2 linked regions of the Homo sapiens genome follow. The protein of the gene in region 2 interacts with the protein of the main gene of each other region in a pairwise test. Each region holds a gene or a part of one and is shown on either strand. Other genes may lie near its edges.

Evidence for each region. Proteins that work in one complex are often made in the same cells at the same time.
Region 1: the proteins of C21orf58 (region 2) and SPTA1 interact in a two-hybrid assay, tested with the Homo sapiens proteins (one large-scale study listed by BioGRID).

Annotation. Positions count from the first base shown.
Region 1 is NC_000001.11:158,617,123-158,620,777, forward strand, and holds part of SPTA1 (spectrin alpha chain, erythrocytic 1), read right to left. Parts: intron 3,345-3,655; coding exon 3,048-3,344; intron 2,213-3,047; coding exon 2,100-2,212; intron 935-2,099; coding exon 917-934; intron 467-916; coding exon 415-466; intron 1-414.
Region 2 is NC_000021.9:46,300,584-46,303,859, forward strand, and holds the end of C21orf58 (uncharacterized protein C21orf58), read right to left. Parts: intron 1,994-3,276; coding exon 1,902-1,993; intron 1,572-1,901; coding exon 1,416-1,571; 3' UTR 547-1,415; downstream 1-546.

The DNA.
Region 1 (3,655 bases), on a different chromosome or scaffold from region 2:
CATCTTACTACGTCATATAATAACAGAAATTTGCCAGTGTTGGGCACTTTTACATTTGCTCCTTTACTTCATCATCATGTTCTAAATCCTTTGTAGCCACAAAACGTGAAACCACCCACCCACTGTTCCCAAAGCCTCTCCCACTCTGGGCAGATCAGAGTCTCCCATGAAATTCTTTCTTCAGGGCAAACAGTGACTCTACAATGGGTACTAACTCTATTGTGTAGATGCAGAAATTGAAATTCAGAGATTTAAGTAGACTGAGGTTTATATTCATGATGTGATGGCCTATGGTTAAAATGGACTTCAGGTGATACATACCTAAAAGTATCACCTGGGCTTCCCTTAGGTGATTATTTTTACACTCCTTATAATTTTGGCAATATCTTCAGTTAATGAAAAAACAATACTTACTTTATTTGCTTCCAGCTGAGATTCCAGAGTTCCTGTTTCTTTGAGCAATGATCTAGTTAAGAACCGAAGGAAATCATTATGCATCACATCACAGGTCAATATTTCATACATGCATACCAACTCGAAGCTCCTCTGTTTCAACTTCTCCAAGGTTATGTGGCTTACATGAAGCAAAATTTCACAGAGCCAAATTTTCACAACCTTGCCAGACTGATGAGAAGGGAAGACTTTCCCTAGTTCTTCTCTGACTAGGAGAAGGCTTTCACATACCCCTCTTAATTATTCTTCTTAAATACACACTTAAGCAATGTAGGCAAGATTCCGTCTAGTGAAGTATAAGGGCAGAATGAAATATAATGAGCTTTTCCTTCTCACTCCACATTTTTATTTACATACTACCAGATTACAATGGAATGAAAATGTCTCAGCACTAACTCTTTCTTAACGAATTCTTCCATAATAATATAATAAAGCAAACATGATGATAACATAAAATACTGACCCATCCAGAAAGTAAGCCCTGGACATGGAGGTCCGGAACAGGAATCACATGAGAGAAAAGGGAGATGATATGTTAAAATGGATTACTTTAAAGATCTCATTTCCTCAGATTTATGAAACATTTTAAATCTTTTGTTGCCACAAAACATGAATCTGTCCACCCACTGGTTCCCAAGGCCTCTCCCACTCTGAGAAGATCAGAGTCTCCCATAAAGCTCCTTGCTTCAGGACAAGGAGCACCAATGTCAAGGAATATGCTTGGTGTTGGACACACATTGCCAGGATGTGATGAAGTCACCAAGAAAAGAGGAAGAGAAGGGTGTTCTGTGTCTTCTCTGCCTTCTGTCAGATGGTTTAGACATGGTATAGGATTTCTTTTTGTTCATTTATCGTTGTCAGTGAGTATGTAGAAAAGTATATATCATGAATTGTCTAAACCACCACATTAACCCTCAAAACACCACAGTTTTGACACACCTACTGGATACAACTTTGACCATGTATTCTAATATATTACATCTTCTAAGTCTCCTTTTTCTAGGTCATTTACCCCAGAAGATGTGACATATGTTATCTTCAGGTACAGAACAGTTTGCTATTAATAAGCACAATTAACATAAATTATCTCACTTGATTCTCATTAGAACTTTAGTAGGTACACAACAGAATAGCTTCATATGAGGTATTCATAGAAGATTCTGCTTCTGGTTATGCCAGTAAATATATATGTGACCTTGAGCAAGTAAATTTATCTACTTGAACTTTCCACACTTGGAAACAGAGCTAATAAGAGCTGCTCTGTATGCTTTTCAAGGTTGCTCCGACAGTTAAGTGAGGTAATGGATATGGAAGTACTCTGTAAAGTGCAATATGGCATGTGAACATAAGAAATTGTTATTATTTTGGACTGAAATTACAGGCAACAGAAAGAAAGGTGAGAGTATCAAGGAGAGAATACAGAAGTGTACATAATAAGCAGAAGGATGAAATTGTCATTTCTTGGTTTTCCAAGAATTGATTCAGAAAACAGTCAACTCCAAATATAAAGCATAGGCAAGATATGGGGATTTTAGGGCAGAATACATGCTCTCAGAGTCTCTCCTCTTCCCTTCAAACATGTATTTCATCCCTATGGCAAATGGTGGTGGCACAGGGGTCATGGTTTGGGATGTAGCATAGCACACCTGGTTTCCAGGATCCATTGAAGGAAGGTACTGGCATTCTGTTCAAACTCCTGACACATCTCAAAGTTCTTGACCTGTCTTGCCTCTTCCTTTTGCAGCTCCTGCTCCCGTTCCTAAAACCCCAAATCACAGACAACGTGACTGACATCGAAGGCCTTTCTTTGCCATAAGAGAATTGGTTTGTAGGCTTAACTGCATATCTTTCCTCTCTCAAGTCTAACCTATCTTCCACAGGTATGTGCCTGTGTGCTCATATTTCATGCAGTCAACCTCTCTCACCTCTAAAATGTAAAGATAGCCTGTGTATTTCCCAAGAGTACTTGCAGGGTCCTCTAAGACCAAGTCCCGTAACAAGTAAGCTAGTAATAAAAGCAAACCTCTCCTGTTTATAATTTCTTTTGGGGAAATTTAATTTAAATGAACACAAAAGCAGCCTTAAAGGGCCTGCTACCCTTAGAAACAATAGTTACTATCTAAAAATGGTGATATTGTGGTTAGTTTTCTATTACACTTTTTATGTTTCATAGTTTCAATAATGAACATTATTAACACAGACAAAAGCTAAAAATACATACGTAGCAAGGCACTTTTGGAGGTGTATATAAAAACGAAAATGTCTTGAATGAGGGGGATATGTAGACAATGAATACATATAAAGCCTCATGAACTTTTCATAGCTCATCATTAGAACCATGTCTTGGGGCTTCTGTTTGCTTCTCAGAATCATTGTTCAATACTCAAAAACAGGAAACTGCCCAAATTATGGGGCATAGGGTATACCTATGATAAACATATTTTCCAGTTTTTCTTAGACAGTCATGTTTCATGACTTCTGTCCCAGTATAGTTATTAATAGTGTTCCTTCTATGTCAAAAGTCTATTTACTTGGATAATAAAGTGGTTATGTTCACTGTAGTGAAAGGAAGTTTCTGCCGTGTTCCAGGTTACCTCAATGATGTCAGATAGGTGCTTCCAGGTCCTTTCCAGCACCTCCACTGTTAACCAGGTATAAGGGCTGGAAGGCACACCTAAGGCCTTAATCTGCTGGTCTAGCTCCAGCAAACATTTAAAGTCTGCTTGAGCCCTAGCCAGGGAGGCCAAGAAGTCCTCATGGTCTTTCTGCAGCTGCCGAATTTCATTCAGGGAGACACAGTGCACAGGCTCTGACAAGTTTTCTTCCATCTTTTCACACCAGTTGTTCAAAGCTGAAGCCTTATGTGCAAATTCCACGAACAGGTCCTCAGCCTGCAGAGAGAAAAAAAAGACACTACCATCTTTCCTGATAAAGCCTCTCAGCAGAAGAGAAGATTGAGGATAAAAATAATGCCTGTCTTTAAATATCTGCAGGGCCACCAATCTAAAAGGGCAGAACTAAAACCAATAGGGACTGTGTACTTTGATGGTTGAACATGTGAGTTAGCGGTACGAGCCCTGGTTCTGGCATTTTCTCATTGTGTGAAATTGTTTAAGTCTTTCATCATTTACAAATGAGGGAGGTCGAATTATTTCTAAAATTATTTCAGTTTTAAAATTCCAAAAGTAGCAAAGGTAGTTTT
Region 2 (3,276 bases):
AGAAGTGAGTGTTACTGCCAGTAGCTGCGCTGGGCCCTTCGGTGTTCACACCTGCCCGTCCATGTCAGCACCAGGTGGCTGTCCCTGGGGAGCTCTGCAGCTCAGTGGCAACTCTCTGGTCATCCTGTCTCCTACCTGCAAACTTTCAAAGATGGAAGCACTGGGACAGGGTTCCTCCTTGTGCGGAACTTCAGGAATGAAAGAATCTGTCCTAATAGGGGGTGAATGAAAGTTTATGTATACTACTTAAAAATATGTAAACAACATTAAAAGAGCAAAGAAACATAATTGCACCCAAAAAAAAAAGTAACAAAAAGTAAAGAAAAGAAATAGTCAAGGTAGCCTGTCCACATGGTAAGAAACCCCACAGCACAGAAGGAAACTGAACTGAGGGGAGTGAGCCGCCCTTCCACTGCCCAGCACTCACCTTTGCTTTACAGGAACAAGAGCTGTGCAAACCAGCATGTAGAGATTTCTGCATTTATAGCATTAGCACTCTCCCTTTTTTTTTTTTATTAACTCAAAAGGGATCACGTCATACACAGCTTGCTTCTTTCACTTTTTTATTTTATTTTTGAGACAGGGGCCTGCTCTGTGGTCCAGGCTATAGTGCAGTGGTTCCATCAGAGCTCACTGCAGCTTCTAACTCCTGGGCTCAAGCAATCCTCCCACCTCAGCCCCCAGAGCTGCTGAGATAACAGGCGCATATCACCACACCTGGCTAGTTTTTTAAATTTATTTTTTGTAGAGACGGGGTCTTGCTATGTGACCCAGGCTGGTCTCGAATTCCTGAGCTCAAGTGATCCTCCTGCCTCAGCCTCTTAAAGTGCTGGGATTACAGGCATGAGCCATGCACCCCTACTTCTTTAGTGGGAGTCTGTGCCACAGCTGTGGACACAGGTGTCCCTAGTTATTAAATTAGACTTTGTGGTATTTTCCCCATCAGGATGTTCACACTTCCATGTGGCTAAAGCTATTGATCTTTTCTGTTCTGGCTCCTGAGCTGAGATTTTCTTAAACTCTTTCTGGATGAAATCTTTATTTCATCAGGCTGGTGGCGTCCACGGCCTCAACTTTACCTCCGTGATGGAAGAGGGGGATCTGAGGCTCCCAGGTGGGCCGGCGCCGCCCTACAGGAAAGGAGGGGTCCCTGGGAGGGGCTGTTGCCCTGGTGGGGTTCACAGGCCCCTCACTGCAGGGGACCCGGAGCAAGGGATGCCCCCTGGAATGGCCCCGTGACCAGAAAGCGAGCCTGCCCAGCTTCCCCAGGAGGAGCCTGCAGTCCACACTCGCGTAGCCACTCCGGGTGGTGGCAGGGTCTCTCCCTGCTCCCTTCCATAGTCCCGCCACAGCCCACAGCCCTGAGGAAGCCTGGGGGTGGAGGGTGCCCCGGCCAGGGTCTCTGTGACTCACACTCAGGGTGGGCCAGGCGTCCACAGGCTGGGGGCGGGCTGGAGGACAGTGGCAGCCCCAGGTGGCCACACAGCATGGTGGTGGTGGTGGTGGTGGTGCACGGCAGGCAGCCTTGGCCTGGCAGCTCGTGGGACCCTCGGGGGCACATGTGGCGGGTCCTGCCACAGACGCACCTGCTGCTTAGGACGCAGCCCAGGCTGCTCCCCACCTCCACTCCCGCCCTGTTCCTAACTGGGGCTGGATCCCATGTGATAGGCAGGATGGCAGGGTCTAAGCATCCTCCCAGAGGAGGCTCCTCCCCCGCCCCAAATTGTGCAACCCATTCCTCATCTGGGCTGGGACTCGATGGGGATGGGGGCTTCACAGCCAGACTGTAGACCTGAGCCAGGAATGCCCTTTCAGAGCTACACAGATGCAGAAATTTCCAGAAGAAAAACCACCCAGGCCCTGTTTCCTTGGCCTAGGGTTCTGCTGGGGGCTAAGCCTACCTGCAGGGCTGGGGGCAGGGCCTTGAGCATCCAGTTCTGCAGGACCAACTGGTGCACCTGTGCGTTCTGCAGCAGCAGCAGCTCCACCATGTCTGCAGGGAAGAAGCAGGGGGACCCTGAATAAAGTTTCCGTTTTTCCTATTTGTTAAAGTGATAGAGCATTATAGGACCAGAGAACAGGTGTGTCTGTACACTGTGCAGGTCCCCGGGGCAGGCTCTGAGTCCGTCTGCACACGGTGCGGGTCCCCGGGGCGCGCCCTGAGCCCGTCTGCACACGGTGCGGGTCCCCGGGGCGCGCCCTGAGCCCGTCTGCACACGGTGCGGGTCCCCGGGGCGCGCCCTGAGCCCGTCTGCACACGGTGCGGGTCCCCGGGGCGCGCCCTGAGCCCGTCTGCACACGGTGCGGGTCCCCGGGGCGCGCCCTGAGCCCGTCTGCACACGGTGCGGGTCCCCGGGGCGCGCCCTGAGCCCGTCTGTACACGGTGCGGGTCCCCGGGGCGCGCCCTGAGTCTCTACTAAAAATACAAAAATTAGCCAGGCGTGGTGGTTCAAGCCTGTAATCCCAGCTCCTTGGGAGGCTGAGGCATGAGAATCGCTTGAACTCAAGAGGCAGAGCTTGCGGTGAGCCAAGATCGTGCCACTGTACTCCAGCCTGGGCAACCAGGGCGAAACTCCGTCTCAAGAAAAAAAAAAAATTAAAACATCTAAGCCAGTTGTAGTGGTGCATGCCTGTAGTCCCAGCTACTCAGGAGGCTGAGGCAGGAGGATCACTTGAGCCCAGGAGTTCGAGGCTGTAGTGAGCCATGATCATGCCCCTGCACTCTAGCCTGGGTAACAGAGCAAGATACTATCTCCCCAGAAAATAAATAATAAAATATCTGTTCATCTACAGACACCATGAAGAGAGTGAAAAGGCAACCACAAGAAGGATGGAACACTCAAAATGCACATATCAAAAAAGGGCTCATTACAGAAATTATAAAGAATCCCTAGAAACCAATAAGGGAGGCAGGCAACCTGAAAGAAAAATGGGCAAATTACTTAAATGGACACTTTACAAAAAAGGATATTCAAGTAGCCAATAAGGCCAGGCACGGTGGCTCATGCCTGTGATGCTCGCACTTTGGGAGACCGAGACAGGAGAAGTCCTTGAGACCAGGAGCTGACACCAGTCATAGCAAGACCTCATCTCTACACACACACACACACACACACACACACAAAATATATATATATATATATATATATATATATATATATATTTTTTTTTTTTTTTTTTTTTTTGGAGACAGAGTCTTGCTCTGTCGCCGAGGCTGGAGTGCAGTGGTGCGATCTCGACTCACTGCAAGCTCCGCCTCCTGGGTTCACGCCATTC